Linked DNA regions of Homo sapiens. The protein of the gene in region 1 interacts with the protein of each later gene in a biochemical or structural test. Each region holds a gene or a part of one and is shown in the gene's direction. Other genes may lie near its edges.

The links.
Region 2: the proteins of SNTA1 (region 1) and ABCC4 form a complex in vitro, tested with the Homo sapiens proteins (2 studies listed by BioGRID and IntAct, with this or other methods).
Region 3: the proteins of SNTA1 (region 1) and CYSLTR2 interact in a test that uses a peptide from one of them, tested with the Homo sapiens proteins (2 studies listed by IntAct, with this or other methods).
Region 4: the proteins of SNTA1 (region 1) and ADRA1D interact in a test that uses a peptide from one of them, tested with the Homo sapiens proteins (2 studies listed by BioGRID and IntAct).

Annotation. Positions count from the first base shown.
Region 1 is NC_000020.11:33,406,591-33,413,085, reverse strand, and holds the end of SNTA1 (alpha-1-syntrophin), read left to right. Parts: exon of another isoform or gene 1-303; coding exon 304-511; exon of another isoform or gene 512-659; coding exon 660-790; coding exon of another isoform or gene 791-900; exon of another isoform or gene 901-2,754; coding exon 2,755-2,951; coding exon of another isoform or gene 2,952-2,983; exon of another isoform or gene 2,984-3,033; intron 3,034-4,197; coding exon 4,198-4,385; intron 4,386-4,486; coding exon 4,487-4,579; 3' UTR 4,580-5,129; downstream 5,130-6,495. UniProt on the Homo sapiens protein: Adapter protein that binds to and probably organizes the subcellular localization of a variety of membrane proteins. May link various receptors to the actin cytoskeleton and the extracellular matrix via the dystrophin glycoprotein complex.
Region 2 is NC_000013.11:95,298,136-95,306,519, reverse strand, and holds the start of ABCC4 (ATP-binding cassette sub-family C member 4), read left to right. Parts: upstream 1-5,068; 5' UTR 5,069-5,205; coding exon 5,206-5,279; exon of another isoform or gene 5,280-5,569; intron 5,570-8,384. UniProt on the Homo sapiens protein: ATP-dependent transporter of the ATP-binding cassette (ABC) family that actively extrudes physiological compounds and xenobiotics from cells.
Region 3 is NC_000013.11:48,648,981-48,657,776, forward strand, and holds the start of CYSLTR2 (cysteinyl leukotriene receptor 2), read left to right. Parts: upstream 1-4,948; 5' UTR 4,949-5,037; intron 5,038-8,796. UniProt on the Homo sapiens protein: Receptor for cysteinyl leukotrienes. The response is mediated via a G-protein that activates a phosphatidylinositol-calcium second messenger system.
Region 4 is NC_000020.11:4,238,821-4,247,008, reverse strand, and holds part of ADRA1D (alpha-1D adrenergic receptor), read left to right. Parts: intron 1-8,188. UniProt on the Homo sapiens protein: This alpha-adrenergic receptor mediates its effect through the influx of extracellular calcium.

The DNA of each region.
Region 1 (6,495 bases):
GAGGCAGAGGTTGGGCCATTGCAGTGCAGCCTGGGTGACAGAGCGAGGCTCTGTTTCAAAAACAACAACAAAAACCCCACAAAATATATGAACACGTGTGTATATGTCACACTCGCTTGTTCCTATGCCCCATGAAGCCCCAGCAACTGTGGCTGGAGCCCAGCAGTGAGGGTTGCTCCTGATTCTCTCACGGACATCCCCCTGGTTTCTCCTGGTTTGGTGGTGGGTGGGGTTTCTTGGGCCAGGGTTGGGCAGCTGCAGCCTAATGGTCAGGTCCTTGTCTCCACCCATTTGTGCCTGCAGGTATCTGGAGATCTGCTCGGCAGATGGTCAAGACACCCTCTTCCTGAGGGCCAAGGATGAGGCTAGTGCGAGGTCGTGGGCGACTGCCATCCAAGCCCAGGTCAATACTCTGACGCCGCGGGTCAAGGATGAGCTGCAGGCACTGTTGGCAGCCACCAGCACAGCTGGGAGCCAGGACATCAAGCAGATTGGCTGGCTAACTGAGCAGGTACCTGCTGGGCCTGGGACCTATCCCTCTCTCTCTTCCGCTCCTTTGGAGCTGGCCCTGTTCCCAGTGCCCCTGGCCACCTCACCCTGCCCTGGCCCTCTGCCCTCTCTTCCCCCACCCATCCTCACTGCTGTTTTGTTCTCTGCAGCTGCCCAGTGGGGGCACAGCCCCCACCCTGGCCCTGCTAACTGAAAAGGAACTGCTCCTCTACTTGTCTCTCCCCGAGACCCGCGAGGCCCTGAGCCGGCCAGCCCGTACTGCCCCACTCATCGCCACCAGGTACCCACAGGCAGGGGCAGTATGTCTCCCCCAGAACTTGCCAGGAGATGCTCCAGCAGGGCCCCAGAAGCTGGGAACTCCAGCCCTGTCCACCCTCAGCTATTCCCCAGGTGACCTGAAGCAAGTCTCTGCCCTGTCTGGGCCTCAGTTTCCTCATCTGTAAAATGGGTGCTTGGAACAAAAGGATATAAGGTCCCCATTAGCCACTCATTCGCTGACACTTATGCCTTGTGCTGCATGGTTCAGAGGGCACAGAGCTGACCCCAACAGTTTCTGCCTCCAGAGAGAACCTTGTCTGGCTGGGGAGACAGACCCAGGAACAGCCATTACAGTGCAGGGTTTGTAGGAGCCACTTAACTCTGTTGGGGTAGTAGAGGAAGGCTTCAGGGAGGAGGTGACATTTGAGCTGGACTTTGATGGATGAGTAGAAGTTTTCTGTTTAAGAAAGGGTGAAAGAGCATCCCATGCAGAGAGAACATCATGGTCAAAAGTACAGAGGCATGAAGGGCTATAGCATGTTCATGGAGCTATGAGTTTGTGATAACCAGAATTCATGCAGGAAATGGAGAGAAGGGAGTTGGCAGGGCCTGATCTTGAAGAGCTTCTATTGCCTGATTAAGGAATGTTAGCTTTAGCTTAAGAGTTTGGTAGTGTTGAAGGGTTTAAGCTGGGGAGCGAGGTGCTCTGGTTGCTTTAAGAGAATCCCTGTGGCTGCCACGTGGAGAATGCAGCGGAGAGTGCAGGATGGAAGTGGGGAGGTGCTGCAGTCATGCAGGAGAGATGATGGTGGCTGGGGGAGGTGGAGGTGGGTGGCAGGAGCAGATGGGGAAGAAAGGCAGCATTGGCATTGGAAACCACATGGGTGTAAAATTAACAGGGCTCCGTGCTTGCCAGATGGGGCGGGTGAAGGAGGGGTCCGGAATGAACAGGAGGTTTGGAGCTTGTGTCTGGGTGAGCGTGGGACTGGGGGTGGGGGTGGAAAGGGAGGAGGCTGGAGCAAGATGCTGAGTTAAGTCCAGAGTGTGTGTGGGATGGAGAGGGAGCTTGGATAGGAAGCCTGGGGACTCGAGGGTCTGCAGCTCAGGGCTGGAAAGTCGAAGGCGGGTGTCAGCAGCAGTCTGTGGCGGGGGGAACTGAGCTATAGGAGAAAGAGTGGGTGGAGGGAGGAACAAAGAGGGATATGGGGCAGAACTTTCTGCCCCAGAGAGGGGCAGTTGGCTTACCAAGGCCACACAGCAAGTGAGAGTCAAGCTGCAGGGGTCTGAAGTCCTTGTCCCCCATGTCTCCTTACCTCAGGCTGGCTCTGGCCCGTGTGTCAGGAGCCTGCTGGCTACTAGGGATAACTAGGTCCTGGACTGTCTGCCTAATCAAGTGATTCAAGTTAGGCAACAAAAGTTTACTGAGCACCTACTGTGGGCAGGCATGGTTTTAGTTACTGGGAATACAGTGGTGAACACAAGATCAAAATTTCTAACCTAGTTGACATTCTAGTGAAAAAGACAGTCAAAAACCAACGAAAACAAATAATAAAAAGTATAATTTCTGGTACCATGATTAAAAAGTAAGGCTAGTGAGTGACAAGGGTGCTATTTTGGACTGGGAGGTCAGGGAAGGCTTCTCAGAGGAGGTGACATTTAAACTAACATCTGAAGGAAGTGAGGGAGTGAGCCGTGCAGATAATCAGGGAAGCATGTATAGGCAGAGGGAAGAGCATATGCAAAGGTGCTGAGGCAGGCATGTGCTAGGTGTGTGTGATGACACCAGTATAGCCAGAGCCAAGGGAGTGACGGGGAGGGTGGCAGGAGATGTCTCCTGCTGAGTCAATCAGTGCCCCCTGGCAAGTCCTGTCCTGTTAGGTGGTAAAGGATTTACAGGGTTTCTTCCCAGGTCACTGGCCCCTTTGCCCAGAACTATTTGCCTCCGGCCTGAGGCCTCATGCTCAGCCCTCTGCCCCCAACCCCCAGACTGGTGCACTCAGGCCCCTCCAAGGGCTCAGTGCCCTACGATGCAGAGCTCTCTTTTGCCCTGCGCACGGGCACGCGTCACGGTGTGGACACTCACCTGTTCAGCGTGGAGTCACCGCAGGAGCTGGCTGCCTGGACCCGCCAGCTTGTGGATGGCTGTCACCGGGCCGCCGAGGGTGTGCAGGAGGTGTCTACAGGTGTGCTGGGAGGATCTGGGAGTGTCCCTCTGGTAATAAGCCTCTTATCCCCAGGGGCATTCAAGCTTCCTTCTTTAGGGCACTTCAGGAGGGGATAGAAAATGGGGTTTGGAGGTCAAGGTGGGTGGATCACCTGAGGTCAGAAGTTTGAGACCAGTCTGGCAAACATGGCAAAACCCTGTCTCTACTAATAATACAAAAATTGGCCAGGTGCGGTGGCTCACGCCTGTAATCGCAGCACTTTGGGAGGCTGAGGCGGGTGGATCACTTGAGGTCAGCAGTTTGAGACCAGCCTGGCCAAAATGGTGAAACCCTGTCTCTACTAAAAATACAAAAATTAGCCGGGCATGGTGGTGGGCGCCTGTAGTCCTAGCTACTCGGGAGGCTGAGGCAGAATTGTTTGAATCTGGGAGGTGGAGGTTGTAGTGGGCCCAGATTGTGCCACTGCACTCCAGCCTGGGCGACAGAGCAAGACTGTCTCAAAAAAAAAAAATAATAATACAAAAATTAGCCGGGCATGGTACTAGGTGCCTGTAGTCCCAGCTACGCAGGAAGCTGAGGCACGAGAATCACTTGAACCCGGGAGATGGAGGTTGTGGTGAGCCGAGATTGCGCCCACTGCACTCCAGCCTGGGTAACAGAGTGAGACTGTTTCTCCAAAAAAAAAAGGAAGTTGGGTTTGGGCCCTCTGTTTTGGATGTGCAGGTGCCCTAGCAGGCAGAGACTCTTCTCCCTGGGGTTTTCTTGCCCCAGTTTTGTCAATCTGCTGGTGAGGATGTGAGAGATGGCACTTGGGGTAGGGTTGCCAGAGGAAATAAATACAGGACACCCAGCCTCATTTGAATTTCAGGTTAACAATGAATACTTTTTTCACAGAAGTATGCCCAAATTAGTCATTGTTTATCTGAAATTTAAATTTAGCCGGGTAACTCTGCAGGTCTCCAAGGGCGGTGCTTGGTAGATCTGATGATGCCTTTATCAGCAGTGAGCCTCCTGTCCATGGCACATTTTAAGCTCCCCCTTTCTACTTGTGCTGCTGGAAGTGGGACTGGAAGTGGGTGTAGGTCCTCTGAGGGTGGGGGTGATGACTCTCTGCAGGGTGGGTGTACTGGTGCCACGACAAACAGTGAGCCTCCCATCCCTGGAGGCATTCAGGCCCCACTTTGTAAGCTGCGGTGGGGGTTGGAGGTTGGGGTGTAGTCTCTGAGGTGCCAGCTGTGCCTGTACCTATGTGCCCTCCCTGCAGCCTGCACGTGGAATGGGCGTCCCTGCAGCCTGTCTGTGCACATCGACAAGGGCTTCACACTGTGGGCGGCTGAGCCAGGTGCAGCCCGAGCTGTGCTCCTGCGACAGCCCTTCGAGAAGCTGCAGATGTCTTCAGATGACGGTGCCAGTCTCCTTTTCCTGGATTTTGGAGGTGCTGAAGGCGAGATCGTGAGTGAGGGGCTGCCTCTGCACCCTGGGGAGGAGGGGGTGTGCACTCTCGGAGGCCAGGCTGGCCAGGGCCCTGACTCTTCTCTCCATCCACCCTCCAGCAGCTGGACCTGCACTCGTGTCCCAAAACCATAGTCTTCATCATCCACTCCTTCCTGTCGGCCAAAGTCACCCGCCTCGGGCTGTTGGCCTAGAAGTCGCCGGATGCACTAGCCCTGAAGAGGGGTGTCCATGACATGGCCTGAGCTGGGCCTCCACCGACTGCCTGCTCACCCCTGGGCTGAGGGAAGGGAGAGGAGAGGAACAAGGGCCTCCGAAACCCCAACCCTGAGGGAGACTGGATTGGTCTTGGGGCCCAGGACCCAGACGCAGGACAGAGTGGACTCTGCCTGTGATGGGGTGGCCTTCCTGCTGCCCCCCTCCACCAGTGCCTTTTGCAGAGAGATATTTTGTGTACACAGAAGCCATTCCGAGTCTGGGACCTGCCCCTGTGCGGATCCTGACCCCAGCCAACAGCTGAGCTGCCGGGCCTCCTCGAGGCCCCTAAGCCACCCCCAGAGGTCCCATCTGAAGCTGGAGTACCCTGGGGTCAGCAGCAAGAGAAAGAAGAGGAGATTTTCTGTTTGTTTTTCCCCTCAGCCCTGCCACCGTGGGGAGTCTGGTTTTTCTCTTCATCCTGTCTCTCTCCTCCTTACTCTTGGATAAATAAACAGCCTGTGAGCACACAGGCAGCCCGGCCCAGTGTATGTGGTCTGTGCCTTGGCCTTTGGGTCCTGGGGTGGCCCCTGCAGTCCCAAGATGGACCAGACCAAGGACTAGGGCACCTTTCCCTGGAGAAGAACAGACCTTTACTACATGGGCCAAAGACAGTGTATTGGTTATCTATTGTTGTGTGACAAATTATCCAAAATTTGCAGCTTAAAATGACAAATATTCATTATCTCTTAGGTTCTGTGGGTCAGAAATTTGAGAGGGGCTAAGCTGGGCTGTTCTTGTCTCAGGGTCGCTCATGAGGTTGCAGTCAAGTTGTCGGCTAGGGCTGCAGTCATCTGAAGGCTTGACTGGGGCTGGAGGATCCATTCCAATACTGCTCATGCACATGGCTGTGGGTAGGAGGTCTCAGTTCCTCACCATGTAGGGCTAACCCTAGAGCTGCTGCTTGAGTTTTCTCATGATATGGCAGTTGGCTTTCCCCACAGTGAGACAGAAGAGAGGGCAAGGAGGAAGCCACAAACAGTGCCTCTTATGACCCGGTCTTGGAAGCCTTACACTGTTGCTTCTGCTTTGTTCTATTCATTAGAAATGAGTCACTAAGTTCAGTCCACACTCAAAGGGAGGGGAATTAGGCTCCACCTCTTGAAGAAAGGAATGTCAAAGAATTTGTGGACCCATGTCAAAGCCATCTTAGAGAGCTTCAGGACCCTTTCCTGCAGAAGGGAGGTGGAGTGGAATGTGTTTGGTACTTCGGAAACTGCGATGTGCTGGCTGGATGTGAGTGGGCAGTGGTTATGACTCCCTACCTAAAATCACAATGACAATGGCAATGATGGAGAACTTTTTTTTTTTTGAGACGGAGTCTTGCTCTGTCACCCAGGCAGGGTCTCATCTCACTGCAACATCCACCTCCCGGTTCAAGCGATTCTCCTGCCTCAGCCTCCTGAGTAGCTGGGATTACAGGCGCCCACCACCATGCCCCACTAATGTTTTGTATTTTTAGTAGAGATAGGGTTTCACCATGTTGGCCAGGCTGGTTTTAAACTCCTGACCTCAAGTGATCCTCCTGCATCAGCTTCCCAAAGTGCTAGGACACCGTGCCAAGCCCAGAACTTTTTTTTTTTTAAACTTTTGAAAGGTTCAGTTTCTTTAATGTAGCGACAAGATAAAACAAAGATGATGTGCCTGGTGTGATGGCTCATGCCTGTAATCCCAGCACTCTGGGAGGCTGAGGTGGGCGGATCACCTGAGGTCAGGAGTTCAAGACCAGCCTGGCCAACATGGTGAAACCCTGTTGCTACTAAAAATACAAAAATTAGCCGGGCATGGTGGCACCTGCCTGTAATCCCAGCTACTCAGGAGGCTGAGGCAGGAGAATTGCTTGAACCTGGGAGGT
Region 2 (8,384 bases), on another chromosome or scaffold:
GATATTAGCCCTTTGTCTGATGAGTAGGTTGCAAAAATTTTCTCCCATTTTGTAGGTTGCCTGTTCACTTTGATGGTGGTTTCTTTTGCTGTGCAGAAGCTCTTTAGTTTAATTAGATCCCGTTTGTCAATTTTGGCTTTTGTTGCCATTGCTTTTGGTGTTTTAGACATGAGGTCCTTGCCCATGCCTATTCTTAAGACATCTTTAGGCTGGGTGCTGTGGCTCTCACCTGTAATCCCAGCACTTTAGGAGGCTGAGGCTGGCAGATCACTTGAGCTCAGGAGTTTGAGACCAGCCTGGGCAACACAGCAAAACCCCCTCTCTACCAAAAAAATACAAAAGTTAGCTGGGCATGGTGGTGCGTGCCTGTAGTTCCAGCTACTTGGGATGCTGAGATGGGAGGATGGGCTTGAGCCCGGGAGGTTGTAGTGAGCCAAGATTGCACCACTGCACTCCAGCCTGGGTGAGAGCTAGACCCTGTTTCAAAAACAAACAAACAAACAAACAAACAAACAAAAAAGAAGACATCTTCCTCGTCTTTGCAGGCTCATTCCCTGGCCTAGCTGTCATGTATCCAGAAGGCGTTCACTAACGATTTATTGAATGAATGGGAAAAAACCCCCATCCTTTAATTTGTATATTGCCTTCAGAGTGTATTCACAAGTTGTGAGACTCACAATAATCCTGTGAAGAAGGAAGAGTGGGGATTCTGATCCCTATTTTGTTTTTACATGTATTTTTATGTTTTTAGAGACAGGGTCTCTCACTCTGTCTCCCAGGTTGGAGTGCAGTCGTGCAATCAGAGCTCACTGCAGCCTCAAACTCCTAGGCTCAAGTGATCCTCCCATCTTACCCTCCCGAGTAGCTAGGACTACAGGTGTGTGCCACCATGCCTGGCTAATTTAAAAAACATTATTATTACTATTATTATTATTATTTTTTATTTTTATTTTTTGTAGAGACGGCATCTCATCACATTGCCCAGGCTGCTCTCGAACTCCTGGCTTCAAGTGATGCTCCTGCCTTGGGCTCCCAAAATGTTGAAATTATAGGTGTGAGCTACCATGCCCTGCCTGACCCCATTTTATTGTTGTTGTTTTTTTTTGAGATGGAGTCTAGCTCTGTCACCTAGGCTGGAGTGCAGCAGCGAGCTCTTGGCTCATGGCTCACTGCAACCTCTGCAGCCCAGGTTCAAGTAATTCTCCTGCCTTAGCGTCTCAAGTAGGTGGGACTACAGGCGCATGCCACCAAGCCTGGCTAATTTTTATCTTTTTTTTTTTTTTTTTGAGACAGAATCTCGCTCTGTCGCCAGGCTGGAGTGCAGTGGCATGATCTCGGCTCACTGCAACCTCTGACTCCCTGGTTCAAGCAATTCTCCTGCCTCAGTCTCGCAGGTAGCTGGGATTACAGGCACATGCCACCACGCCCAGATCATTTTTGTATTTTTAGTAGAGAGGGGGTTTTGCCATGTTGGCGAGGCTGGTTTCTAACTCCTGACCTCAGGTGATCTGTCTGCCTCCGCCTCCCAAAGTGCTGGGATAACAGGCATGAGCCCCTGCGCCCGCCCCGACCCCATTTTAGACCTGAGAAAAATAAGGGTCAGAAAGGTTAGGTAACAAGTGAAAAGATATAAAGCCCTGGCCCCCTGGTTCCATATCCACTCCTCTCTGCAGTCAGACACTGCTCTATAGTATCTCTTCCAAACACCACATTGTTAATGTTCAGAAAAGAATGTTAAGAAGTTCCAAAAGATCTTAATTAAGAAAAAAATAAGCCTCTGCAGGAGCCGAAGGGACTGAGCACTTTGGCAATTTGGAGATGGCTAATGACGGTTCTTACACAGTTGTTGGGGGTAGGGAGAGCATTCTGGGACAGTCTGACAGAGGAAGTCACTAGACTTCTAACTTTAGTAAACAGGTTCTCTAGCTTGGAAGTAGAACTGGTAGCTCAGCATTTACTGGGCTAGAAAACTTAGGAAGTTTCAAAGGGCACTGTAAATCAGGTGAAGGCTGACTATTTTGGTTTATAGCTTATATTATCTGAGAAAGAGCTATCAGAAAGGTAGGTTATTGAATGATCATAGCTTTCCCACAGTAGTCAACTTAAAATATTGTGTTCCTTTTTGTGACAGAAATTCTGAAACATGAGCTGGTATGCTGGCGAGTGCCTACAATCCCAGGTACTTGGAGGGGTTGAGGCAGGAGGATCCCTTGGGCCCAGCAGCTTGAGTCCAGCCTGGGCAACATACTGAGAGCCCATCTCCAAAAAGAAAACCATTCTCAAACATGCATGAAATGTAAGAAAATAAACCCCTATGACACATCATTTGGCTTCAAAAATTATCAATATTTTGCCATTCTTATGTGCTTGACTTTTTTTTTTTTTGAGACAGAGTCTCACTCTTTAGCCCAGGCTGGAGGGCAGTGGTGTGATCATAGCCTACTGTAGCCTCCAACTCCTGGGCTTAAGCAATCCTCCCACCTGAACCTCCAGCTGGGACTACAGACTCACGCCACCACACCCATCATATTTTTACATTTTTAGTAGAGATGAGGTCTCCCTTTGTTGCCCAGGCTGGTCTAGAACTCCTGGGCTCAAGCAATCCTCCCACCTGAGCCTCCAGGTTACATGGGACTACAGACTTACTCCACCATGCCCATCTAATTTTCACATTTTTAGTGGAGATGAGGTCTCCCTATGTTGCCCAGGCTGGTCTAGAACTCCCGGGCTAAAGCAATCCTCCTGTCTCCACCTCTCAAAGTGCTGGGATTATGGGCTTGTACAGCCTGGAGTGCAGTGGCACCTTCTTTTTTTTTTTGAGACGGAGTTTCACTCTTGTTGCCAAGCTGGAGTGCAGTGGGATGATCTCGGCTCACTGCAACCTCCGCCTCCTGGGTTCAAGTGATTCTTCTGCCTGAGGTTCCTGAGTAGCTGGGATTACAGGCATCCACCACCACACCCAGATAATTTTTTGTATTTTTAGTAGAGATGGGGTTTCACCATGTTGGCCAGGCTGGTCTCGAACTCCTGACGTCAGGTGATTCACCTGCCTCAGCCTCCCAGAGTGCTAGGATTATAGGCGTGAGCCATTGTGCCCAGCCCAGTGGGCACCTTCTTAACTCCTTGTAGCCTGGAACTCCTGGGCTAAAGCCATCCTCCTGTCTCAGCCTCTCGAGTAGCTGGGACTACAAGGGTACGCCACCACACCTGGGCTAATTTTTAAAACTTTTGGTAGAGACAGAGCCTCACTATGCTGGCTAGCCTGTGCTTGACTTTTAAATATGTGTTTGTGTAAGGCTTTCTTTAAAAGCTATTAACTATACTATTTTAGCAAATATACATGGGAAATTATCAAGGAACAATAAAATGATCTTGTTCCAAGCACCATGAACTTGGAGCCTTTCATTTTTTTTCATTCAGGGTGGATATGAAGAGCAGCTGCTGACCTTGTTAAGGTAGCCACAGAAATGACTGAAGACTTAGAGGTGGGAGTACACAAGCTTGGAACAAGATTTTGTTCATTCATTCCTACAGCCATTCAACCAGCATATTCTGGGCACTTCTCATGCACACTGGCCATCCACCAGGGAGACAGGCCATGCTTAGACATAGGCTTATTGCAAATCATGTTTTATCCTTTCTTGGCTCTAAGACTGGACAAGTTCTGCCTTTCAGCTTCACCTTCCTCATCTATAAAGTAAGGATAACCTTGAATGGGGCACTGATAGAATTAAAAGTGAGATAATTGGTCGGGCGTGGTGGTACATGCCTGTAATCCTAGCACTTTGGGAGGCCACGGTGGGAGGATCACTTGAGCCTAGGAGTTTGAGACCAGCCTGGGCAACAAAGTGAGAAATTATCAAGGAACAATAAAATGATCTTATTACAAAGAAAACCAAATTCTCAAACATGCATGAAATATGAAGAAAATAAACCTCCATGACAATCATTTGGCTTCAAAAATTATCAGTATTTGAACTTGGAGCCTTTGATTTTGATTTTTGCATCTCTACAAAAATTACAAAATATGAGCCGGGTGTGGTGGCGGGTGCCTGTAGTCCTAGCTACTTAAACTGAGTTGGGAGGATTGCTTGAGCCCTGGGAGGTCGAGGGTGCAATGAGCCATAATCGTGACACTGTGTGTGAGACTGCCACACACACACACACACACACACACTAGTGAGGCTACGCACTCAGAAATGCACATGAACATCACTGGTATTCTGGAACCCACGTGTCGTTTGCCACTGTTATCTGTTAGGCTTTAGGGCTTGACGACAGAAATCATCAGGCAGTCTCTCTTTCCTCTTATATTCCTTTCCCAATCTAAGGGGGCAGCAAAAAGCTCAGAGGTCCACCGTAGCATGCAACATGTGAGATGCCTAAAGCCCGCCCCCATCGACGACAGCATTCATCCATCTCCCGAATTCATCTGGGTCATACTCTCGAGTTACCCGGCTTTCTTGAGGTCTTGCAGCTCTACAAGGATAATCTGTGGCTAAACTTTGCTGTCGTCCAAGGTCAAATGTTTGGCTCACAGGTTGAAGAGCCTCCCATGGCACCGTCGTTTGGTCCTGAGAAGGGAAAGGCGCCCAGGGGGCGGGCTGCTAGAGCACGAGGCAGCTGTCTCCCAGTCTTCCCAAACCCGTAGCCGAGGGGGCGTTTCTGCGGCGCAGGGGCGGGCACAGCCGACGCCTCCCTGCTCCACCTTCTGTGTCGGCGCCTAGACTCGGATAGTGAATTTCGGAAAGTTTCACTCGGGTTCGTGCACGTGGGCACCTCCGGACCCGGCCTCCTTGCCGCGCGCTCTGCTACCCTCTCCATCCAGCGGCGCAGGCGGCCCTCGCCTCACCCCTGGGCGTAGCTCTGGGCTCCCTTTGGCGTCGCCAGCTTCGCCTCCTCCCGCCGCGTCTCCTCCCGCCGCGTCACCCGTCGGTCCCGGCCGCGCTCGCACGCGGTGCGCAGCTCCCGGGCTCCAGGCGGCGGCGCGTAGCGGGCGCCCCCGAGGCGGCGGGCCTGAGAGGCGGGGACGGGGCGTGCCGCCGGCGCCCGGCTCCCGGAAGCGGCTGCTTCACAGGCTCCAGCCGAGCGGACAGGCGTGGCGGCCGGAGCCCCAGCATCCCTGCTTGAGGTCCAGGAGCGGAGCCCGCGGCCACCGCCGCCTGATCAGCGCGACCCCGGCCCGCGCCCGCCCCGCCCGGCAAGATGCTGCCCGTGTACCAGGAGGTGAAGCCCAACCCGCTGCAGGACGCGAACCTCTGCTCACGCGTGTTCTTCTGGTGAGTGTCCCCGCCCGAAACAGGTCACCCTGCAGCCGCTGGCGCCGCGGACGCACTCTCCCGGGGCCGCGCCCGATGCTGCCCAAGCCCTCTGCGGCTGGGGGCGAGGGGAGCGCTTTCCTACGCCACGCGGTCCACGCCGGGGCTTTCTGCTGCGGGTGGCGCCGCCCCCACGCCGGCCGCGTGGTCCCTGCCTGCGCCCCGGGGCGCGGCGCAGGGGGACGCGGGGACGCGGGGCCAGTGGCTTTGCTACTGGAGGCCCTGCGGGCCCTTAGGGCTCGGGGGAGGAGGAGCAGGAGGTGGGGAGGCGGGGAACCCAGGCTGCCGAAAGGGGGAGTCTCTTGCCCAGCGGGAGAAGCGACTGCACCCCTTACACGCCCACCCTTCGCTGGCTCCCGCCTCCTGCTCTGGGACTCGCAGTCTCCTGAACTCAAACGCACCTTTTCCTTTCTTTTTAAGTAAGCAGCTTACGAACAGTTTCCTTTATCTGATCTCAGCCAAAGCCTAATTAGTGTCCTGGACCTATGCCATCTCCCAGTAGTGTCCCCACCCCTTCCGATATTCCTTACGAGACAGCTCGATCCAACTCCACGTCCCGTTGTACCTCTCTGTGTCCCGGTGTCTCTGTATCTTTTGTCTCAGTGACCAGGGCTCTCCTTTTGCCTCTTTGTGGGAATCTCACTGTGTGTCCATGTGGGTCGTGGTACCTAGTTATGGCAAGTTTCATGTGGGTAAAATAACACTATTATTATTTTTCATTTATGAATGGGGACCCTGTTCTTGAACAAGATTTTCCAGGATTTGCTTTTAACTGGGACATGCACCGCCACGACTGGAGTCTGTCTTTGACCAGCTTCTTTCCCCTGTTTCCAATACTTTCACTTCCACGTAGGAGGACAGCTCGGAGGTGGGGTCCCTGGAATCGCTAACCTTCAGAGAGGTGATCCATGGTCTTGATGCAGGTGGTTCCTACCAGGAGTTCTACCTTCTTAAAACCACCCCAGGGCTCCTGAGCTGGGAGGGCCCACAGCCCTACCCATTTTGTGCAAGGAAACAAACGGAGAAAGACTCGGGTGACAGTAGTAACTAAAATTTCCATCTTGGCCTGGCGCGGTGGCTCACGCCTGTATCCCTGCACTTTGGGAGGCAGAGGTGGGTGGATCACGAGGTCAGGAGTTCGAGACCAGCCTGGCTGACATGGTGAAACCCCGTCTCTACTAAAAATACAAAAATTAGCCGGGTGTGGTGGAGCACGCCTGTAATCCCAGCTACTCAGGAGGCTGAGGCAGGGGAATTGCTTGAACCCAGTAGGCGGAGGTTGCAGTGAGCTGAGATCGCCCCACTGTACTCCAGCCTGGGTGACAGAGTGAGACTCCGTCTTGGGGGAGTGGCGGGTGTGTGTGGGGGAATTCCGTCTGCTAACTACATAAGCCTGAACCTTTGAAGGGCTTCAATCTCACTTGGATGATTATTAGATCTTCTGTTTCTTGACCTCTGCCGCCTCATCTTTCCCACATGTTGATATTGCCTTTTATTATGGGACAACCTAGGGTGGGGGTCTCCAATTTTTTGGGTTCCCTGGGCCACACTGGAAGAATTGTCTTGGGCCATACATAAAATACACTAACACTAATCATACACTAACACTAATGATAGCTGATGAGCTAAAAAAAAATCGCAAAAAAAAATCTGATGTTTTAAGAAAGCTTACGAATTTGGCAGCCCATGGGCCTCAGGTTGGACAAGCTTGACCTAGGGGATTCCAAGAGGATGAGTCGCTTACTCTTGTTTCGATTGTGGTACACTCAGTGGGTGTAGGAACTTCTCTTGGTTGTTTGGCGGCCTTTCTCTTAAGGAGAGGGGCACGTGGAGGAGGAAGGAATATGGGTGTGGTTTCTGCAAATAATAACTTGAGGTAGACAAATGGTCTCCTCAACTTCAGGCAGGGCAAGGAACTTTTTTTTTTTTTTTTTGAGACAGGATCTTGCTTTGTGCAAGCTGTGACCCAGGCTGGAGGGCAGTGACACATTCATAGCTTGCTGCAGCCTCCAACTCCTGGGCCGAAGCAATCCTCCTGCCTCAGCCTCCCGAGTAGCTGGGGCTCCAGGTGTGTGTCACCATGCCCGGATAATAAAAAAAAATTTTTTTTGTAGAGATAGGGCTCTCTATGTTGTTGCTCAGGCTGGTCTTGAACTCCTGGGCTCAAGTGTTCCTCCCGCTTCGGCCACCCAAAGTCTGGGATTACAGATGTGACTCCTGCCTCCTTATATTTTTCTCCCCCTGCATTTTCAAAATGTAGGTGGCAGGGAAATAGGAAGTGATGCGCTCCCATTGATGACTTGAGTAGGTGTTCATTTCCGGTTTCCCTGATGGAAGGGAAGGAGCTAGTAGACCTCTGTTTTACTCCGAGGACACTTAAGCTGAGAGTGGTTAAGTTGCCTGGACTCACACAACAATCAAGTGTCAGAGCAGGCTCCAAAGCTGGGCAGACTGGCTCCCCAGCCTCTTTGGAGCTGCTGTACTGAGCTGCTTCCAGTTCAGGTGCTGTCGGAAATGCATGGAGAAGGCGCTCCCTGTTCTGGAAGGCTAGAGTTTCTCAAGGGAAATTCTTAAAGTACCTGCAGTTGGAGATGATGCATGTGTAACAACTATTAGTGTGCTTTAGGGCAGCTGTTCTCAAAGCATAGCACTCAGAGCAGCAGCATCGGCATCACTTGGGAGATTCTAAGAGATGCAGATTCTCCAGCATCCACTCTGGACTGATTCAGTAAAACTGGAAACACTGGGTGTGTGGGTGGGGGTGGTGAGGTTTCAAGTGCTCCAGGTGATCCTGATTTGAGGCGCTTACTGCTTCCAGCTACTCCTTTCATTGGAGTATTATTACAGTATTATGCTTTTCTTTATTTTTAATTGTTAAAATTTCTTTATTTCTTTTTTTTGAGACGGAGTCTTTCTCTGTTGCTCAGCTCTGTCACCCAGGCTGGAGTGCAGTGGTGCAATCTCTGCTCACTGCAACCTCTGCCTCCTGGGTTCAAGTGATTCTCCTGCCCCAGTCTCTCAAGTAGCTGGGACTATAGGCGTGCACCCTCACACCCAGCTAATTTT
Region 3 (8,796 bases), on another chromosome or scaffold:
TAATTTGGCAATCTTCCAATTTGCTCAACATACTAAAAAAAAATTAAAGAGGTAAGTGTGTATGTATGTGTATGTGGGGGGACGCCAGGGATGAGTGGGGAGAGGGTGTCATGTGGCCCACGCACTGCACAGTTCTCCGGCTACTTTCTCTCCCAACTCTGATTGGACTGGAGCGGACATTAATGCTCACTCCAGCCTCATCACCTCTCCAGAGAGCTGACACTGCTTGGGAAGCTAAATTGTTCTTTTTGAAGGGAGAATTACATATGAGAGACTGAAAATCGAAACAAACTAAAAAGGATGCAAGCTCACTATGAATTAGTTAAGTCTATTGCGTTATCTTATGGCAAGTTTATAACTTTCTCCCTGAATTTTGGGTTCCCTTGGTTGGAGAAGGGAAATGTAGATGTGTTCCCTAGGACTACCATAACAAAGTACTGCAAACTTGATGGCTTAAATTAAAGCAACAGAAATTCATTCTCTCACAGTTCTGGAGGGCAGAAGTCAGAAATCAAGATGCCAGCAGGGCTGCACTCCCTCTTCTGAAGGCTCTAGGGGGAGTCTTTCATTGATTTACCAGTTCTAGTGGCTCCAGGTGTTCCTTGGCTTATAGCTGCATCACTTTAATCATTTTACATGGCCTTCTCCCCTGTGTGAGCTTGTTGACACTCCTTTGTCGTCTCTCTTACAAGGATACATGTAATTGTATTTTGGGCTCACCTGGATAATGAAAAATAAACTCGTTGCCTCAAGATCCTTAATTAACCACCATTTGTGCCACATAAGGTCACATTTACAGAATCCAGGATTTGAATATGGGCATGTCTTTGGTGCCAATGTGTAGCCCACTACACTACGTAATTCTTTTCTCTGTCTTATCACAGAACAGGCTCTCTTACACATAAAGTTGGTTGCTTTCTAAATTCCATGAGGTTTCAAGTTTGTTTCCATTGTTCCCCTTTCTTTCTTTTTTTTTTTTTTGAGATGGAGTTTCGCTCTTGTTGCCCAGGCTGAGGAGCTCAACGGTATAATCTCAGCTCGCCGCAACTTTCACCTCCCAGGTTCAAACGATTCTCCTGCCTCAGCATCCCAAGTAGCTGGGATTACAGGCACCTGCCACCATGCCCAGCTAATTTTTGTATTTTTAGTAGAGATAGGGTTTCACCATGTTGGCCAGGCTGGTCTTGAACTCCTGACCTCGTCATCTGCCCACTTCGGCCTCCCAAAGTGCTGGGATTACAGGCGTGAGCCACTGCGCCCAGCCTGTTCTTCCACTTTCTTAATGACCTAAATAGAAACATGATTCACGCTGACTTCTTCCTTTGTATTTAACCTTGCACTATGAAAACAAACTACTGTCTCTGATGCCTTAGTAACTTAATAGTGCTTCTGATCTTTTGAAAATCACAGGTTTGTGCTTATAGGAATATATCCTCTAGACTCAAGCTTATGTCTCTAAAAGTCTAACTAAAGGCCTTGTGGCTGGTACATTACTGTAATCAGCAAGAAACTGGCCCTGATTCTCTTAAACTCACTTTGTTCAACTGAGAACAAACTTGGAAGTCTCCTACAAAACTGGAGTTGATTCTCATCTCTTGATTACTTCTGCAGGCCTTTGAAAGTTCCGGAGAAGTTCTCTGTGTGCCATATACATTAAACACGCTTCCATGTTTTCCTTTAAATCATCAAGAGCAGCACATAGGATAATGTGTTTATTCCTTTCTCTGCTCCCTAGGATTATCTTCTTTTTAAAGTCATCGACCCTTTCCCTATCTACTCTAAATGAATGATTTCTTGCTCCATCCTGACAAATCCGGTTAAAATGACATTGCATCTCTTTATATCATCTGTCCAAATTGTACAAAGAAAGAGTGTCTAATGGGCACTCTCCAGCAAATTTACTGCCTATGGAGTGCTTAGAGATCCCAGGCTGTCCTAAAAATAAAAGAAAGTCTTGAATAGGTTTCTCCTTTCTCTGAGGTTTACAGATTCAGAAGCAGGGAGTAGGGAGAAAGCATTTCCCTCATTATCTTTCTAATACTCTTGAAACATATTCTGCTCCTTGAAAACCTAATATTCAAAAGTTAGCTCTCGGAGTGTAGGATCGATTTTTTTTCACTGTTTATTTTATTTTAAAGTTTTTAATTTTTTTTATTTTTATTTTTATTTTTTATTTTTTGGAGACAGAGTCTCACTCTGTCACCCAGGCTGGAGTGCAGTGGCACGATCTCAGTTCACTGCAACCTGCGCCTCCCGGGTTCAAGCAATTCCCTGCCTTAGCCTCCCAAGTAGCTGGGATTACAGGTGCCTGTCACCACGCCAGGCTAATTTTTGTGTTTTTAGTAGAGACGGGGTTTCACCATCTTGGCCAGGCTGGTCTCGAACTCCTGACCTCGTGATCCACCCGCCTCAGCCCACCAAAGTGCTGGGATTAGGCATGAGCCTTTTTTTTTTTTTTCTGAGGCAGTCTTGCTCTGTCACCCAGGCTGGAGTGCAGTGGTGTGATCCCAGCTCACTGCAGCCACAACATCCCCAGCTCAAGCAATCCTTCCACTTTAGCTTCCTGAGTAGCTGAGACTATAGGCACATGCCACCATGTCCAGCTAATTTTTGTATTTTTTTTTTTAGAGATGGGGTCTCCCTGTGTCACTCAGACTGCTTTCAGTCTGTTCTGGACTCGAGATCTTCCTGCCTCAGCCTCCCAAAGTGCTAGGGTTATAGGGGTGAGCCACTCCATCCAGCCCACTTTATTCATTTTAATGAGATGAACATTAGTCAATTAATTGGGCTTTTTGGCTCACTGCAACCTCCACCTTCCGGGTTCAAATGATTTTCCTGCCTCAGCCTCCCAAGTAGCTGGGACTACTGGCGCGTGCCACCATGCCTGGCTAATTTTTGTATTTTTAGTAGAGACAGGGTTTCACCATATTGGCTAGGCTGGTCTCCAACTCCCGACCTCGTGATCTGCCCACTTTGGCCTCCCAAAGTGCTGGGATTACAGGCGTGAGGTCACTGCGCCTGGCCAATTGGGCTTTTATTGGAGAAGAATGAATATCTATAGTGACTGCTTGTAGAATGAAATGTTGTTTCAAGCTTTTTGCCCCCTAAAGATGAGAATGGTAATATAACATTTGTGTACTGTGAGTTCTAATTGGGATAAATAAAATACTAGAAATAGAATCCCAGACCCAGGAAGAACCTTGTCTTCAGAGGAGCAACCTTGGTCCCAGCCCCTTCTCCACAGCTGCATGAAGAAGCTGCACAGAAAACCACTCACCCTCACCCCTAGAAAGTACTCTTCCCAGCCCCTAGTAACCACTATTCTACTCTCCACTTCTATAGGATCAAATTTTTTAGCTTCCACATGTGAGTGAGAACATGCAGTATTTATCTTTCTATGCCTGGCTTAGTTCACTTAACATAATGTCTCCCAAGCTCATCCATGTTGCCACAAATGACAAATTTTGTTCTTTTTAAATCAGTAAATAGTATTCAATTGTGAATATATACCACATTTTTCATCCATCTTTCTGTTGATGAACATTTCGGGTGATCCATATTTTGGCTATTGTGAATAGTGCTACAGTAAACATGAGAGTGCAGAGATCTCAACAAGATTCAGTAACCTTACTACTGAGTATATATCCAAAGTATTTTATTCATTTTGATGCTATTATAAATGGAATAGTTTCCTTAGTTTCCATTTTTGGATTGTTTATTGTTAGTGTATATAAATGCAACTGATTTTTGTGTATTGATTTCCTGTCCTGCAACTTTGCTCAATTTGCTTGCTTATTAGTTCTATTGGGGTTTTGTGTGTGTGTGTGTGCATGGTATCTTCAGGTTTTTCTACATATAAGATTTTATCATTTGCAAACAGACAAAATTTTACTTATTTATTTCCAATTTGGATCCCTTTTACTTATTTTTCTTGCTTAATGTTACTGCAGCTTTCTATGCAGGAAACGAGGATTTGAACAGTGATGGAGAGATGAGTAATGGTTCGATTTGGAACATATTTTATGGGCAGAACAAATGGAACTTGTTGGCTCAGAAGTGGGTGGTGGAAGAAAGAGGGAAGTTAAAAGTGACTTCTAGGTTTATGGATGGATGAACTGGCTAAATTATTGTGGTGCCATTTGCTTAGACAGGGTAGATGGGGGGATGCAGGACTAAGAGAGGAAGAGAAAAGCTCCACCTGGGCCACATTAAATTTGGCCATGATTGTGGATCAGATAGGTAAAAGCAAGAGAAGGAGGGAAGAAGTCAGAACACAGACCTCTGGGGAAAGCTCACACGTAGAAAAGGGGTGGAAGAAGAGGCATCAGAAAGAGAGGCAAAGAAGAGCAATCTGAGGGGTAGAAAAAGAACCAGGAAAGTCAGAGAAAAAAGGGAAAAGTTTCAGGAAAGTGGCAATGGTCAACTATGCAAACAAGAGGGGAAGGAAGGTGAGGACTGAGAAAGGATTTTTTATGTAAGCAACAAGGAGGTTTTTGGTGACCTCTGACAGAACATTTTCAGCAGACTGGATAAGGTCTCTGCCTGAGTGCAAGTGAGCTGAAAATGCAAGTGAGTGAGGGAAGTGCTTTAAAAAAGTCTAAAGTGCTATGTGTGTAAGGCAATGTTGCTATTTCTGTTGCCATGGAAACAGAAACCATTTAGGAGAACTAAAAGCCACTTAAAATTCCTGACTCTAACCCATCATATCCGCTTGATCTCTTGAGAAAGATAATGACAAAAAACCAGTCATTAGAGGGGCAGGGCAATTTTAGGTTTCTTCTTTTTAGACATAGCCCCTAACTGGAAATTTTCACCCTTCTTGAGAAGGGAGCTTGCACTAACATCTACAATGGCTTCTAAAAAGCACAGATGACCTGCTACACTTCCTGACTTGCTTGCTATTGGTTGGCACTGTTCATAAATATAATTTGCTCTTTCACTTTTCTTTGAAATGAGCAACCTGAATTACTCGGAGGAGAAAGGCAGGAGAGATAGAGGCAGCAGAAGCCAGGGCAGCTGAAAGACAGAGACCTTCAGGTGGGCATTTTAATCTTTGTTTTGTTAATTCAGTGTTGAGCATCATGACTTGATGATCACATAATAGTCAGAGGAGTAATTTTTTAAAAGTAAATTTGTTTTGTTCTACTATAAATGTTATTTTCCTATCATGTACATGGTAGTTTAAAAAATACTGTGGAAGTATAAAAATGTTGAAAGAAGCCAAATTCTCCACCAAAATAGCCTCTATTGATATTTTGGGGATCGTCCCTTTGTGTGTGTGTGTGTGTGTGTGTGTGTGTGTGTGTGTGTGTGTGTGTGTGTGTGAGTGTGTGTGTGTGTGTGTGTATGCACATATAACTTTAGTTTTCATAGTTGCGTCCCTACACTATGGACAAGTTTGTATTCATTTCCTCCATATCAGTCTATGGTTTTTCCATGTTGCTGTGAATTCTTTGTAATCATAAATTAAAGCTGCTGCATATTATTGCATTGAGGAACTTTACTATACTTCCTCCATTTTTGGCTGTTATCCTCTTTTTCATAGTTTGGGTCCTTCTATTATATAAGATATATTTTTTCCATTCAGTGTCTTGTTTTAGGGGTAGAAGAAGTTAAATCTGAGCACATATATTTCAATGGTTTTGCTCAGAGGCACAATGAGAATGAAAGAGTATGTGAGATCATGAGCATATAATCTGTTCCTTACCCCACTGGGACCCTAATCAGTGTTTCTCAACCCTGGCTGCACATCTGGCCAGAATCACCCGACTCTGAGGAGATTAGAAAATTACCCCTAGAATAACTGAAGCTTAACTTTTGGAGATCAGTGAGTCATCTGCAGTATTTTATCTTGTTTTCCAGAAACTTCTCAGGTGGTTCTAATGGGTGGTCAGCATAAAAACAGATGACCTAGGTCATTCAAAATATTTTTCTGTCTCTGAAATATACCTGAGAGTAATATGTATTAGGAGAAAGGGAGGTATAATTTAAGGCAAGCCAACCAAATCTCCCTTTCAACACTACATAAATAATGCAAATTATAAAATAATTTGTGGGAAACATAAGACTTCTAGAAATTTCTATCATCTACTCAGCCACATAAACTCTTGAGATAAGAATCTACTTGTGTTTCGATTTACTAATGTTTTAAAGAGATGGATTTGTTTCCAGTGCTTCGGTGGTTAAAAGTTAGAGAAGTTGAGGCTCAAGTGTGTTCTAAATGTATCTGAATCACGCCCATATCTGCTAGAATCTACCAAGGCAGCCAGGCTTCCTTTTAAAACTCTTCAAGATTAAACACAAGGTGGGCATTTAATAGCTGGCCAGTTCACTAACACACTGTGGGCACAGCGAAGATCGATGGGATTGGATTTGGAGGCAGAAGGTGGCTCACTCTGGCTTTCAGGAGCCACATAGACATGGCATTTACCTTCTCTGGACCTCATATCCTCAGGAGGAAAGTGGATAGAGTTTATGCCAGGGCTGCGTTCTGGTTTCTCCCATCAGGGACTGAAAACAGAGCCACAGCGCCTAAACCACACTGAAGCATTTGCTGTTGCACTCAGCCTGCTACAGGCTAGGAATCATCCCAATGAGACCAACAGCATGTTAATCTAATTTCTTCTTGTTTTGACTCAGTGGAGAACACCTGTTTAGTACCTTCTTTAATGAATGTAAACATTCACATAGTACTTTACTATTTACAAAACATGTTTACAGGCATCAGTTCATTTGATCCACATACTAGCCTTAAGAACTGGAGGATGTAATTCTTATTTTAAAGATGGTAAAGATGAGACCAAGAGAACATAGGATCTTTCCCAGGTGGAACCAGAACTGGTCCAATCTGGTTGAGCCCAGGGCACATGGTCCTTTCTTACAACTTAAATAATAGCTATTGTGGGAAATTGGTTAAACAAATTTCATAATGTTTATATAATTGGCTATTCTGTATCCAGTTAAATGATGACATTGATGTTGTTAGTTGGCAAAGAAAGGTGATCATGACACGAAATAAGAAAAAAGCAAGATACAAACAGCATTATAAGTGTGCTCATTTTTGTTCAAAAATATTTGTATATATTTCAAGAAAGATAAAAAAACCATATATGCAAAATTTTAGCTATGTCTGGTTGGTGGTAAAGTTCATTATTTAAGTTTATTTCAGCTTGTATTACATTGTAATTTTTTTTTACCATGAATGTGTACTACTTGTGTAATAAAAATAAATAGAATTGTTCATGTGTTTCTGGTTGGCTCTTCTCCAGATGAAATGGCCCCATCTTCTTTCACTTGACCATAAAGAAGGCTCCTGTTTAATTATCTGAGTTTTGTACATTATTGTCACAAATCTTATTGTGATTGTTAGCTAGTACTGACTGAACTCTTCACATGTGTTGGGCACCAAGTTAATCACTTAACATCCATTTTTTTTTCATCAATACTCACTCCAGTGCTCCTTTGGCAGATGAGAGTTTGAAGCTCAGACGGCTGCAGTAATAAAAGAGACTAAAAGGCAGAGTTGAAACTTAAACCCAGGTCCCTTTTAACTCAAAAGCACATGCTTTCATTCATTATATCACTCTGCCTCCTATCCACCTGGGATCACATGAGCAGCCTCCATTTTGGAGGAAAGATGATATATTTTTTCAGTGTACTCATTGCTGTGTACATGAGTACATGATGGTTACCTTGGGCATCGTTAGCATTTCCTGTGTACTCCAGAATCAAAGATCCTTTCTGCTTTTCTATAGTTTGCTCTGTGCACCAGATATCTGAGGCACTCTAGTTCCCCAAGGGTAAGCCTTTAAGATAAAAGCCTCACAAGGGATTGTGCAATTACCCAATGAACTCTGGCTAATGCGGCAGCCAAATTGGATAATACAAAGAAAGGCAAGCATTTTGCTGTGGGTGCTCAGCGTTGCTAGAGAGCTTTTTGAAATCCATGTCAGAAACCCCTAGCACTGTATTTCTTTATTTCTCAGGGTATTGGCCACTGCCTCCTTTGTACTGCAGTTACTTATGTACAGTATGTTCTATTGGACCAAGACTCTGACATTGGAGTCATTGCATAGAACCTAGCACATAAACTCCATTGAGAATAAAGGCATTGTGTAAATAAATCAATTCACCCAATGAATGCAGACTTTATTAGTTACAGCTAATGTTTATCTCTGTTGAACTTTATTAACCTCTTTATATTAATTGACCCATGGAGAAAATATAATCTTGACAGAATTTAAAGGAAAACCTCTTCCAATGGATTGATGACTTTGTGGCAGTACAGTCAGTCTTTTGACAAAGAAATCTAGTTATTATTCGAGAGGCCCAGGATAAGGGTCTAAGCAGTGAGTTGGAGTCAAGAAATTCCAAAGTCGGAAGGGTCCTTAGGAAGAGCTGGGACCAGAGGCAGAGTTTTTTTTGCCTCTTTAGTGTAAAGTCCTTAACGGAGAGGTTTCAAAAAAGTACAGGAAGCAGACTATAGAAAGAACAGAAGAAAGGAGAGAAAGGAGGGAAGTAGAGGAGAGGGGAGAGGAGGGAAAGAGATGGAAAAGGAGAGAGGAAAAGAGGGGAAGGGAGCTGGTTTACTCTGGAAGTTTAAATATTAATTAAGCTGGGAGAAATTAAAATAATTTAGTCCACCATTATTACCTACATTGTACATTATATAAATAAGAATTTATTATAAAAAAGATAATTTCCCACGTAAGTCTCCTGCCATGAGGCTGTAGAAACAGCATCGTACCTTGTTTGTACCTCTAGTACAGAAAAACAATCATCTAAAGAGTATTTGAA
Region 4 (8,188 bases), about 29 Mb from region 1:
TGGGGATGAATTTGCCCGGGGTCAGATCCACCCATGGCTGCAACCTCCGCAGGCCCAAGCCGGGCCTTCTCTGCCTCTCCCAGGCCTGGACCCTTCCACACTGCCAGGCTGAGTCAGGAAAGAGACAATGGCCTCCTTCCTGTGCCCCCGGAAGCCCTTTCCACACTGCAGCCACAGTGAACTTTATATATTATAAATTAGATGTGTCACTCTCCTATTAAAAGCCCTCAATGCTTTCCCACTGTCCTGAGAACAAAATCCAAACTCTCTATCATCACCTATGAGAGGGTGACCTTCAAATATATTATTGTCCGAACCAAAATAGGACACTATGAATATTTACACTGGGACCACAGGCTGGAACTGGGGCCATGCAGACATGTGGTCCCCCTTCCTACAATGGAGATCTCAAATGAGAGCCATCTCCCTCTCTGCCCTCCCCCTCTCTGCCGTCACGGTCTTGCCGCTTCCCTCTGCTCTGGGCTCCTCCCCTCTGACCCTTTCTGGTTTCTTGCTGGAGCCCCTGCCTGTCCTCAGGCCTTTGCACTTGCTATTCTCTCCGACTTCGCTGTCCTTCCCAATCTCTCCTGGCCAACTCTATCCTTTAGGTCTTGGCTTAAATGTTCCCTCTTCAGAGGGACCTTCTTGGACCCATGACCCTCAGTGGTGTCCTTGTTTTCTCCCTTGAAGCACAAGGTTCGCTTCCTTCACTAGATCATTGGTTGTAATTACATCTGTGTGCTGCTTGTTTTGTTTCTGGGACTGGCCCAGAAGCTGTGTGAGGGCAGGGCTGTGTCACCTGGGTCATCACTGAGTCCACGGCACTCAGCATGGGCCTGGTATGTGGGGAGCAAAAGAGAGCACTGCAGTGAGGATCACAGGCTCTGGCGCCAATCCCAGCTCTGCCTCCCTCCCGCTAGCTGCGTAACCGTGGGCAAATCCCTTAACCCCTCTCTGCTGGCTTTTTTATCTATAAAATAGAGATGGGGTGATGGTAATCATGCCTATCTATAGGGCCATCGTGGAACTGTAGCTTTTGTAGTGGATACTCAATATAGGGTAAGGAATGAATAAGTAACCCTTGAAAATCATCCAGCCAAAGGTTGTTGCAGGGATGGGGCAAGCAACGGACCCTAAGCAACACACTAGGAGAAGCAGGCAAGTAAGCAGGGAAGAGAAAGTTGGTGCCCGCCCCTTTAGACATCCAAGCCCATCCCCCAGGCCCATCGCCCCAGCCCCTGCTCCAGCCTTGCCCAGCTGTGCTGGGCTCCTGGGTGCCCTCATTCAACCCCTGCCCCTCGGTTCACACTGGGCCCCTGTAGGGAACGCCCAACCTGTGTAGAATGCCAGCTCCCTGTTTTTTTTTCCTTTTAACTTCCTTTAAAATTTTAGCTTAATGCACAAATAAGGAGAAAACAATAAAACAAGCACCCACATGCCTGTAATCACCTATACTGAACAGATGTTAACATTTTGCCATATTTGCCTCAGACCCCTTCCTCTCTCTTTTCAAATAAATAGAACAAGCCATAACTAGATCCCCTCCTCCTGTCCCTTCCTCTTTCTCTCCCTGCCTCGCCAGAGATAAATCTGGAGTATATCACTCTTATACAGATGTTCATACTCTTACTACAAACATCTGTATCCATAATAATATACTGTTTTGTTTGTCTTTGAGATTTATATGAATGGCACCTTGCCATGCGTATCACCGTTCTTCAATTTGCCATTTCACCCAACATTATGTGGCTGAGATTTATCCATGCTGGGCCATTTTCACAGCAGTACATTTGAGAGTATTCCACAGTGCGTTGATCCTGCTGAATGTTAGGTTTTTCTAACTCTTCCTTGTTCCAATCAACACTGCAAAAGGCCACTGCTTTCTTTGAGGTCCACGTCACGTGACTCCCTCTTCCAGGAAGTCATCCCTTAATTTCCATGACCTTTGCTCCTTGCTGGCACGCACAGCTCTTTCTCAATCCTTACATTTCTGCTGCGCCTCACATGTGGTGTAGGGAATTGGGGGGTGGAGGAGGCCCTAAATCCTCCTTCCTAATGGTCTGTGCTGCACCAGGCTTCTCAGGGCACCTTTCCGAGTGCCTCAGAGCAGAGCCCAGGGACACTGGTGGAGCTGAATTGAGTTGAATCTGGCAATGATGAGCAAACAGGACAGAGGCCAAACAAGGAAACAAAATATTCCGATCTGCCCCAGTATGGCTTGGAGGGCAGAAGCAGCAGAGAGGGAGGGCAGAGCCCATTTGGAGCAGGAGGGGTCTGGAGGCTGTGCAGGAAGGAGAGGGGGCCAGGAGGTCCTGACACCCCCAGCATGAGGCCCAGGCCTGGGAGGAGGGAGATACCTTTGAAGGAACAGGGAACACTGAGCAGCAACTTTTGGGGGGAATGTGGACCCCCAGGGGCTGGTATATGTTGGTGTGGAGGTACCAGGTGTGTGGTAGGGGATAGAGAACATTGGAAACTTGGATGCAGGGATCAAAGATGGGGATGGTTGCAGGAGCATGGAGTGCAGTCTCCCAGAAAGAGGAGGAGAGAGAAAAGAGGATCTCAGGACAGAGCTTTGGGGAGCATTGACGTTGAAAGACCCAAAGGAGGCAGAAAAAGAGGCAGCCAGGAGGAGCAGGATGGCTGTTGAGGTGGCACCTGCCTCCTCCCAGGTCCTGGTCACCACACTAGCTGTGACGAGCACCAGAGACGGAGAGATTGAGAAACAATGTATATGCCAGCAAGGAATGGGCCCACATAGGCCCTGGAAGTAAAGGCACCCAGTAGGGCCACAGCAGACCTGGGGTGCCCTCACTCACACTTCCGCACACAAAGCCAGGTGGTAGCAGCAGCCACAGCGGCCTGGAGGGCATCAAGAGTCTCAGGGAAGGGCCCGGAGTTCCAGAGGAACATTGGCACTGTGAGCCATGGGCTGTCACCTGTAAACCTGGAATGCTGTGGTCAGGCCAGAGGGGCAGCACCACAGGAGGGCTGTCCTGAACTGTGGGGGCATCTAAGGACCCAAGTCACTGGCTGGGAGACACTGGGACACAGATGTGGGCACCTAAAATCCAGAGAATCCCAGAGAGTAGCTGGGGATCATCCCCTACACTTCCAGCTGCCCCGCTTTCCCTGTGAGGAACAACTGCAGAGCATGTCCCCAAGGCAGGCAGAGGGTCAACCAGCTCATTAGACCGCAAGTGCCCCGATGCTGCGATTTCAGGGAGCAAGGCTGGGGAGGGCAGCACCAGCTCCTCTGGGACCCCCAGGAAGCTGCTGGTGCCAGAGGTGCGGAGGTGCGTGTAGAACGCCCCTCACCGAGAGAGAGGGGAGGGCACCCTCCTGCCCACGTTCCGTGGTGATGCCCAGTTGAGCTGCCTGCTCCGTGCATAGTGACCCAGGACAGTCCCGTTCCTTGCCTGTGACCGGTGGGATAGCTAGTAGTGCTCCCCTTTCAGTCAGAGATGCTCCACTTTGGAGATAGAACGTAGTGACACCAATCCCTGGGGCCTGTGAAGGAAGTGCTCTTGGCAGCCCCGCCCATGCCAGGTACAATCCCCTACCCTCACCGCAGCAAGCTGGTGCGGGCTGGGTGCCACGGAAAATCACAGGGAATTGTCTAAATCTGCCCTCCTCATCGGGATCCTTCAGCCGGATGCCCCGAGGAGCCCAGACTTGTAGAGTGAGTGTGGGAGGGGCCGCAGTGAGAGCCTGCTGCCTGCGGACTTCCAGAGAGGACCCAGAGAGAGGGGGCGTGGCTGCGGCGGGGCTGCGTCGTTGGGACAGTTGGGTAGGTTGGAAAAGTCCCTGATAAAAGCCTCTGAAGCCTCTGCGCTGAGAAGCTTCGTGCAAGAATCCCCTGACCCTAGAGGTCTAGGCCAATTGTGTAGAATGCAGATCATCCTCCCTGCGGGTGTGAGGGGTACCGGAGGGGCTGGGGAAACCCTGCCCCAGGCAAGCACCCAACTGCAGAGAAGCTTCCTCCTCTCCCGGGAGCCTCCAGAGGCCCGTGTCCCTCCTGCGTGTTTTCATGGCGGCAGCATCTCACTGCGTTTGGGTTTGGGCTGCCTGGTAAGTGTCCCCCAGCCACGCCCAGAGGTGGACTGTCTGCCGAGACCTACATACACACACAAACACACACACACACACAACAGCCCCACCCCTGTCACTCCTAGTGACCACTCACAGCTCCCAGGCTTTCGATCCCAGCTCTCTCTTGTTGGGCAGATCACCGAGCATCACTGACCTCCACCTTCCAAATGCCATCCACTCAAAGCAGCCCGGAGACTCAGAGCCCAGGGCCCCCCTCAAATGCACCTCAAGGCATACAAGCTGGGCAGAGGCTCTGATATCAGAAGTCCCAGGACAGCCCAGCCAATGTCCCACTCCAGCCATCTGTGAGCCACACCTGAGCCTCTCTCCTATCTTGTGAGTCTGTGCTCTGTGATAGTGCCTGTGTCGCTGACCACCCCCAGACTTAGATGTCCCATGTGCTTCTGAAACACTCTGCATGTACTTTTATCACGATGCACTGTAACTGTCAATATTCAGATATGCATCATGAAGTGTGAGGGCAAAGGGAACTACACACACGTAGGCACAGGAGTAGCAGTATTGCTGGGTTGCTCTGTGGTTTGGGAGACGTAAAACGTGTAGCCTATGAGAAGAGGGGTCAAGAGATGAGGCCAGATGCCATCTGCAGGAGAATGGATAAATAAACCATGTATCCATAGACTGGACCACGGTACAAGGAAAAATAGCAAACTACTGATGCACACATGGATGAATTTCATGGATGTTATACTGCGCAAAATAAGCCAGGTCTGAAACTCAAGGTGTACACACCTTTTGATTCTGTGTAGATGAAGTTCAAAAACAGGGGAAACTTATCAATGGTGATAAAATCCAGGATAGCGGTTACCCATCTGTGTGTGTGCAGTGAGTGTACTAACTGGAAGAGAATGCTAGAAAACTTTCTGAAGGGCTGGGACAGTTCCATACCTTGACCTGGGTAGTGATGACATTGGTGCATGCATATGCAGAGCCATCAGGCTGTGCTGTGTGCTTCAGATACACACGCTTTCTAAATTTGACTGTCTACATGTTATGCCTTTGTTACAGTGAGAGAGAAGGCAGGAGGAGGCAGGGGGGAGGCTGTGAGCCCTGCTTAGTAATTGGTGTCCAGGCTGGAAGGCATACTTTGGTGGCCCCGTGCGGAGAGTGGATTATGCATATGTCTGAGAGTCGGCCAGGTGCTAAAGGACTCATCTCCACAGGCTGCCTGAGGTTGTGCAGGGGTCTGTGGATGAAGGGGAGAGGCAAGGGATGCTTTGTGCTAGGTCTTCAGTAATGGCATCATTGTCTCCCGGCCCAAAAGCCTGAAGAAAGGGCTGGCATTACATCTCCTACCTGTGCTTTGTGGCACCTGGAACATAATAGGTGCTCAGTAAATGTGTGCAGAAGAAGGAAACGGTAGAACCCATGTTCTATTCCCATCCTGCCACACCAAGGGTCTGGGTGGCAAAGCACAGCCCTCCATTTATTTATTATTTTAATTTTCTTTTATTGTGGCAAGAGCATATAGCATGAGCTCTACCCTCTTAACACACTTTTAAGTGTAAATATCATATCATTAACTACATATCATTAACTATGGATACATATCATGTGATACTGTTGCACATCAGACCCCTAGAACTCATCTATCTTGCCAAACTGAAACTTTATGCCCATTGATTAGCAATTCCCAATTTCCTAGCGCCCTTTCTCCCTGGAAACCACCATCCCACTCTTTGAGTCTACGCATTTGAGTATTTTAGAGACCCCCATGTAAGTGGAATCATGCAGTATTTCTCCTTCTGTGACTGGCTTATTTCGCTTAGCATAACAGCCCTCTATTTAAAGTCAACTCTCTTTACTTGTTGTGGGTTGGGGGTGAGTCCCCATTTTTGTGGCCTAAAAAAAAAATCTTTAACAGGACAGTTAATATTTATTGAGTAATTACTATGAATAAGCAATGAGCTAGGGTTGGGTTTTTTTCATGTTTTTAACATGGAAAGTTTCAAACACATACATTGATAGAGAGAACCCTGTTAGTATAATGAACCCCTGTGTACCTGTGACCCAGCTTCACCCCAAAGCTAACCTAGATTCTTTCCATCCTCACCCACTGTCCCATCACTGTAGATTCTTTTGGATTTTTGTTTGTTTGTTTTTTGAGATGGAGTCTCTCTGTCTCCCAGTCTGGAGTGCAGTGGCGCAATCTCAGCTTACCGCAACCTCCACCTCCCGGGTTCAAGTGATTCTCGTGCCTCAACCTCCCAAGAAGCTGGGATTATAGGTGTGCACCACCATGCCCAGCTAATTTTTGTATTTTTAGTAGAGACGGGGTTTCACCATGTTGGTCAGGCTGATATCAAACTCCTGACCTCAGGTGATCCACCCACCTCGGCCTCCCAAAGTGCTGGGATTACAGGCATGAACCACTGCACCCGGCCACTGTAGATTATTTTGAAGAACATCCAGATACAGTATCCCTTCATCTGTAAATCCTTCAATATATAGTTCTAGAAGATAATAACTGTAAAAAAAAAAAAAAAAAGCCCACAATCCATTATAACACATAAAATCATTTAATATCATCAAATATCTACTTAGTGTTGAAATGTTGCTGGCTGCCTCGTAAATTTTTGGTTGGTTTGTTTGAAGCAGAATCCACAGAAGGAGCACACGTTGCATATGGTCGATTTGCCTATTAGGTTTCTTTACTCGGTAAGCCTCCACTGCTTTTTTTTCTTTCCATTTATTTAGTGAAGACACCAGATTGTCCCCAGGTGTATCCTGTAGTTTGGAGTTTGCATCTCCACAGTGCCATTTAATGTGTCCCTCTGTTCCCTGTACTTCCTGGGTGCAGATTTGGCCTGGAAAGAATTCTTCTTTTCTGTGGTGTCAAGATTGACCAGAATTCATGTGCTGTCAGCCTGCTCTGTCCATTACAAAGTGACCCATCGGCCTTTCACCTGCTGGTTTTGGCAGCCATTGACCATGGCCTGGACCCATTATATCACTGGGGCTTGAAGTGGGGATATTCTAATCCTATCATACCTCCTTCATTTATTCACTAGCATTCTAAAATGATTTCACCACTAGCTGTTTGGTTAAATAGAATCTGTACAGCAAAGGCAGGGAAGATGTTCAATATTCCTCTTTATTTATCAGAGGAAGAGTCAGTTCTCTAGCATTCTTTCCAGACGTGACCACTGAGGCTGTTTGAGTACCATGGTAATGTCATTATTTTTAGACATCCTTGCTGTTCCAACACATCACAGACATCATTGTTTTGGGCTTGGCCAGTGGGTACTCCTTCCAGTTGGCTTCTGAGATCTTTGGCAGAACCTGGAGCATCTTGAGCTCTTCTTTGCTTTCTGATCTGATAAGATGCTTCAGGCTCAGCTTGCATTTTTTCTGCCCTAGACCTGGAATTAGCCATTTCCCTAAAGAGCCCTAGTCTGTTTCAATGGAAGATGACTGAGCTGTTCATTGATACTGAGTTGGTCACTGATTCAATGGACAGATCTAGGAAGTACATTTTATTTTCAGTAGAAGAAAAACACAACACTGATGGGGACTTCTGTCCTTGGACATATATTCCTCCTTCCCCTCCCCTGAAGATCTTGTCCTCTGCCCAGCTCCTGCTGATATGTTTGTCCCAAACATCTGAGGAACTGTTGATCACCCTGCTCCATTCATTAAAGATCTGGGCATCAGAATCACACTGTTTTTTCCTCACTCCCACCCCTACCCTGGTCATCAGTGTGACTCCACTGTACTGAGGCTGACCCATGATGACACTCTGGCCTTGAGACTACAATGACCTTCCCCTCCTCCCCTCCTCCAAGGCCTATGCCCTGGTCCATGTGCCCATTTTACTCTCCCTCCCCCAGAATCCTCAGTGAAGCTCTTCCTCCTGAGTCCATCTGCTCCTGTCCTCCCTGCTTGGTTCCCATTACACCTGCTCATCAACCCCAGCCTTGACCAAGCCTTCACCTCCCTGCCCTCACCTTGTCTCCCAGTCGATTACACATCCCTTCCTTAGTCAGCTAGTCCCAGAGGATGATCTGTTGCTTCATCCTCTCTTGCCGTCTTTAATTCCCTCACTTCCTCCTATTTCTGTGAGCCCCAGATCCTG